Regions from separate parts of the Homo sapiens genome. Here region 2 is linked to region 1. Evidence: fine-mapped expression QTL. A gene starts in region 1. The other region holds a variant in brackets. All regions are shown on one strand. Distances are between the middles of the regions.

Region 1 (2,928 bases):
CCAATAATGAGCGAGCTTGGATTCGGTGCCCCAATGGACAATACAGTGACTATGGAAGCAATCTAGCCACTGACAGATCTGTGAAATTATTCCTACAGTCTTACAATGCAACATTTTTAAAGTTTAAATACCAAAATTTACAATAATAAAATTTGAATAGCAATCTCAACTTATTTTTGCATTCCAGAGATTTAGTCTATGATAGCGATTTCTATCTTTGGTCTTATCTTTTGTTGAATAGCTTTTTGGTTGTGTTTTGTTTTGTTTTTTAATATTTGGCCTTTTTGCATTGGGCCAACATGTATACTTGGTAGACCTTTAGTTTTATTCCATCTACTCATATCTTCTATTCTCACAATGCTGACTCTTTCATCCAGGATTTCAAATTCTCAAGTTCCAAGCCTGCAAATTTGCTTTTCTATTAGCTCTTAGATAAATCGCAGGACCCTACTGCATGGCTCCTAATCCAAACAAGCAAAAAAAAAAAAAAAAAATACACCAGAGGAAAGTTTTTCCCAAGAAATAACAATAGTACTATTGTATTTCTTTATGACTTTATCGGGACTTTCATAAACATTGTCTCCAATTCCTGATTCCCAGACCTCTGGACCTATAATTTCACCACAAGATAAGAAAAAGGAATTCACTTTGGCTGAACTGTTAAATATGTTTAAATAAGGATTTCTAAACATCACCCCCAGGTCTTTTTCTTCTGTATTTTCCTCTGGCCTTCTATTTATTTGATGTCTTTCAGTTAGGTATTACACCTCTTCGTTTAAATTACATTTATATTACCCCCGTTCATTTGAAAAGATAGCTTCATTTACAAAAGTAATGAATTTATTGTCTTACCTTCATGTTTGGGAAAACATTCAGGGCAGAAGAGAGGAGGAAGATTTCCTCTGTAAGGGCCGGGTAAGTTTTCAACAGCAGGAAGAGCCCAGCAGGCTGCCTGCCTCTCTGCCTCTCCCTGCTCTAGATTATCTTGGCACTCATATATAGAGCAAGTGGTCCTGAGATTTAGCTCCTACCCCAACCGGATTCTCCAACGACAGCAAGAGCCTGACCTTGTACTTAATCTGTGCCTTGAAACCAGATGCATCTTATCAATTACACAGCCTTAGCTACAGCCAGCTGGGACTGTTTGGAAGTTATAGATATGTTTCTTAGAAACATATCTATAAATCAGGAAACACAGCAAATGTTCTCAGTTCAATGTTTAAGTGATTTTCAACCAAAGGAGACTCTGTAAGGCAAGGGATGAGCCTCCTTCTTGTTTCAATCTACTAAACTAAGTGGATGTTTTCATGATTCTCTTAAAAGGTGTTATATGCCAGACTTTGAGATTAAATATTTTATGAAAGAAAATATTTAAATGCAGTTCTGTCACTCAAAATCTAAATAGAATGTTCTGGAGTAGAATTTTTCCCCAAAGTACAGCCTAATACAACCCAATAGTCATCCCTTCATGCTTAACTTTCACAGAATAATCAGAAAGAATATCAATTTTTGTAAACATATTTGAGGACATCACTAATTTTCTCAAGAACTTCACTTAATCCTTTGATAATCAGATCACTGTGTTGGAAAGTTCTTCTCAGGGTCATTATCCACATCCATTTTCTCTCCTTTGCTTTTTATCTTGTCTTATTCTACCAGGTCTTTATTTTCCCATAGCTTTGCATTGATTCTAGCAAGTCCCCAACATCACCTTCATACATTTAATAAAATGCTGCTTATTTTGCAAGATTTTAGATTTCCTATTGAAACTGAGCTACAGTTGGCCAGGCGCGGTGGCTCATGCCTGTAATCCCAGCACTTTGGGAGGCCAAGGCGAGCGGACCAAGAGGTCAGGAGTTCGAGACCAGCCTGGACAATACAGTGAAACCCCGTCTCTACTAAAAACACAAAAAAATTAGCCAGGCATGGTAGCATGCACTTGTAGTCCCAGCTACTCAGGAGGCTGAGAGAGAAGAATCACTTGAACCCAGGAGGCGGAGGTTGCAGTGAGCTGAGATCGCACCACTGCACTCCAGCCTGGGAGACAGAGTGAGATTCCATCTCAAAAAAAAAAAAAAAAAAAAAATTGAGCTACAGTTTTATTTGTATTGTTGGACCAAATATTCTAACACTAGCTGCTAGTGCATTATGAGTGAGGTAGAATAAATGTTAAGCGGGAAAGAAAATTTGAGTTAAGAATAATTTTATAAGTAAACATTCCATTAGTGAAGATTTTCTAGCTTTAATGACTTTTTCTTCCTATATCCAAAGCACTGGAATAATAAAGACAACCCCTATCCTCCCCTCATAAATTAATGGTGGTTTCCAGAGACAAAGCTTCCGCATCTTTTGTTCAAAGCTTTAGTGATTTGTGTGGAAGAAATTTTGTCACAGAGACAAAGATCCTGACTCCTGAAAGAAATATTTTTTATTCAGCTCCAACTGCATAAATTCCAGATGCCATAGACTCATCTTAAATTCTCAATATACAATTCCATTTCAGCGGCTCTCTTAGTTTGGGTTCCCCCAGAAGTAGATTCAGAAACAAGAATTCAATTGCAAGTAGTTTGTTTTTGTTTTTGTTTTAAGAGATAATCTTAGAAAGCACCACTGGAAGTGGGAAAGTGAGATTGGGGAGAAAAGAAAGTCAATAAAGGGTGTTTTATCAAGCAAGAGACTCCAGTGGGCAATTTGAGTTCAGTTCTAATGAGGAACTCTGAAAGACATTGCACACGAACTCTGCAATTAAGAGTTAGTCCAGCCAGGTGTGGTGGTTCACACCTGTGATCCCAGCACTTTGGGAGGCTGAGGTGGGTGGATCACTTGAGGTCAGGAGTTCAAGACCAGCCTAGCCATGATGGTGAAGCCCCATCTCTACTAAAAATACAAAAAAAAAAAAAAGCCAGTTATGGTGGTTCATGCCTGTAA
Region 2 (2,928 bases), 360 kb before region 1:
GGAGTCTAAAATGAAAATGGAAATATTAAATAAAGGATAAGGAAAAGGGGAAGAAAGGGACTGAAACAGCTTACATACAACAGTCATTCTTTCAGGATTCTTTTGGCCAAATAAATGCCTGTACTAAGACAAATTTTTACTGCTTCAATTGGCTTCTCTGTAAAAGGTAGGGCACATTTATGGGGAAAGAAATTGATACTGTAGCTTATGCACCATAAATCACATTACAATTAACTTCCTTTCTATAAAATAAAGAAGCTAGCTATAGCTTTTCTTAATGCTGATATCCTGGACATATTCTTAACATAGCAAAGCTTGAAATTAGCATTATTAAATCTTTCTAACTTGTATTTATTTGGGATAAGAGTAGGGGGGTCAGCAAAATTTTACTTACAGAAAATTAGAATTATTTTCTAATTTCCTAATATAGAAAAATAGAAAAGTAAAATTATATACTTGTTCAATAAAGAAGTGTTCCAGTTATTTATTGTTTCATAATAAACTACCCCCAAACTAAGTAATCTAGAACAATAATCTTTTATTATATCTCAATATTTTATCTGACTTTAATTCAAGCGGGACTCAGCTGTATAATTCTTCTGCTCCTTGAGGCATTGACTGTGGTCACTTTGCGATATTTAGCTAGATGAGCTGTTCTGGAGGGTTTGAGGCAGCTTTCTTCGCATTCCAAGAGCCAGGGTGGGGGTGGCTGGAAGTTTGGGCTAAGATGGGCCTCTCTCTCTCTCCATGTAGTCTAAGTACCTCTTCAGCACTGAAGGTGAACTTTATGTATGGTGGCTCTGGCCTCCAAGAGACCAAGGTGAAAGCTGTTATACTCCCAAAGGTCAGGACCAGACCTGATATAGTGTCAGTACTCTAATGGTTAAATCAGTGGCAGGGTGGGATTCAAGGATGTGGCGGAATAAGCTTCATCTCTTGGTAAGGGAATAGCACATAATACAGGCACAGGAGAAAGAAAGGCAGCCATCTTGGGATGGCTACCACAGAGATATAACTTTATTACTTTTAAGAAGATAAGAGTAATTTGATTCATGTTTCAATCAATCAATCAATAGTTACTAAATGTTTTTTGTGCGCTTTACTCTCTGCTCAGTTCTATTGGTCCTGCCTTGAAGTCCTCAGAAGACCTGTTTTTATAAGTAAATGTTATTACCGATGATACATTTTAGAAAACATCACAATTTAGCCTTAAGAAGAAATCAGCTGTCTCTGCATTGGGTATCAGAAGAGGGAGACGTTTTATTCTAGCTATGTGTGAAACTTTGAGTAGTTTAGCAGATATTTTCAAGTTTCTGTTTATCTGCAAAATTTACTCAACTAATTTTTATTTAGTAAACACTCTATATCTTTACTGGTATAAGCACTGATGATACAAAGAAACATAGACTATTTATGTCCTCAAAAGCTTTCAAGGAAGGGACACATTCACAAATAATCATGATATACAGTGATGTGTGGAACACTGAAGGTTTCTTTCATATCTAAAGTGATGTGACTCTATGAGTTTTAATTAGCTCATAAATAATTCGTATTTAAATGAGTGTCTTTGAAGAACTTATTAATATTTTCTTAAGAATTTAAAATATGCATCTGTACAATTTGTTTATATATTACTTTGACCACGTTTTAATCTGTTCTTAAA[G/A]AGTCATAAAACTCTGGAACTGAAAGTGACTAGGAAGATAAGATATTCAACCCTTTTTTTTATGGACAAGGAATCTGGGACAAAAAGAGGCTAAGGGACTTGTTTACTTCACAGGGCAGGCCAGGCCAGCATGTTCTGCATCTCACAGATCTGCCTGCCTATGAAGACATTTTGGTACAGCATCTCTTTGCCCGCTGAGGTGCTAAAACCCAGAGCCTTGTAAGTATTATTGTACTTGGTTTATCTTCTCCAAAATTCCTGTGCTATTTTAATGAAGAGAACATCTTAATCTCTCTCCTTCACAAATTTTGAAAATTAGGCTGTGACATGTTGACATATACTTCTTTGGCCATGGAGAAAAGTCCCTAACTATATACACGGTAAGCATACCACCACAAATTCTAATTCTATTTGTTCTGTAATTCCTAACTGGAGATTCGCATAGAAAACACAATTGTTCACAAACATAAAAATGTCTTCATTACTCAAACCACAGTATTATCTTTATTTTTTAATGCCCATGACCAACAGGACATGTACTAGAGACATGGTTTCTATGAACCTCTCTTTTCTTTCTCTGAATTTTCAGGGAGAAATACAGATTTCCAAAATATTGGTACTGGGAGGAATCCTTAAATGCCTCTAAATTAATCTCCATGTTTTGCAGATATGGAAGCTGAAGCCAGATGATAGTTTTTTTTTTTTTTTTCTAAGGCTCCATAGATAATGACCAGAGCTTAAATCAGAGTTCAGCTTTTTGGTTCCCAGGTAGTGCCCATGTCTGAATGAAAGAGCTTTGCTAGAGCATCCTAAGAAAACTGCATTCTCATTTTGGATGTATGCAAAAATGAGATTAAAGTCATTCTCTTCCAAAGGGAAGGAATGCTAGTGTTTGCCATATATCAGGGAACAGCTTCCAATCCCTCTGTGCCTCTTATTTATAAGGACGTTTTATTCTCGAGTGATTCCTTGGTTTACAAAGGTATGCTCTGGATAATAGGTAAACATTCCACTTGTCTTAAAAAAGTAAGACAAAGGGAGTGAGATTTCCATTTTTGCTTCAATAATTTGTTGCTGATATCAAAATTGTTTGCTCTAAAAATTCCTTGAGCCATTGTTTTCTGCCCACAGATGATTTCCTCATATTTTTCCAAATTAAGGAATTGTTGATATTACATTTTAATAATAAATATTTGTGCAAACCAGATCTTCCTTTAACTTCAGTCAAGACTAGTGTGGACATGCTGTAAACCAAAGCAAAAACT

Which allele goes with the higher level. Positions count from the first base shown, and alleles are read on the strand shown. Sizes are in standard deviations (SD) of each study's normalised expression.
For the expression in testis of the gene that starts at base 972 in region 1, allele A in region 2 goes with a higher level than allele G (small effect, 0.21 SD a copy in GTEx).

What was found. PIP is the estimated chance that this variant, and not a neighbour inherited with it, causes the effect. A credible set is the group of variants that fine-mapping cannot tell apart.
Region 2: its variant is the best candidate, but not a certain one, in a credible set for the expression of C7 in testis (GTEx, PIP 0.89).

What each region holds. Positions count from the first base shown.
Region 1 is chr5:40,907,541-40,910,468 of GRCh38, reverse strand. C7 (complement C7) reads right to left here and starts at 972. Exons shown (of 18, transcript NM_000587.4): 1 at 853-972. The coding sequence starts at 858.
Region 2 is chr5:41,265,445-41,268,372 of GRCh38, reverse strand. No RefSeq gene overlaps it. Among named protein-coding and RNA genes, the nearest start is that of C6, 53 kb to the right of the region's middle. The variant G/A (reference allele first, on the strand shown) is at 1,664.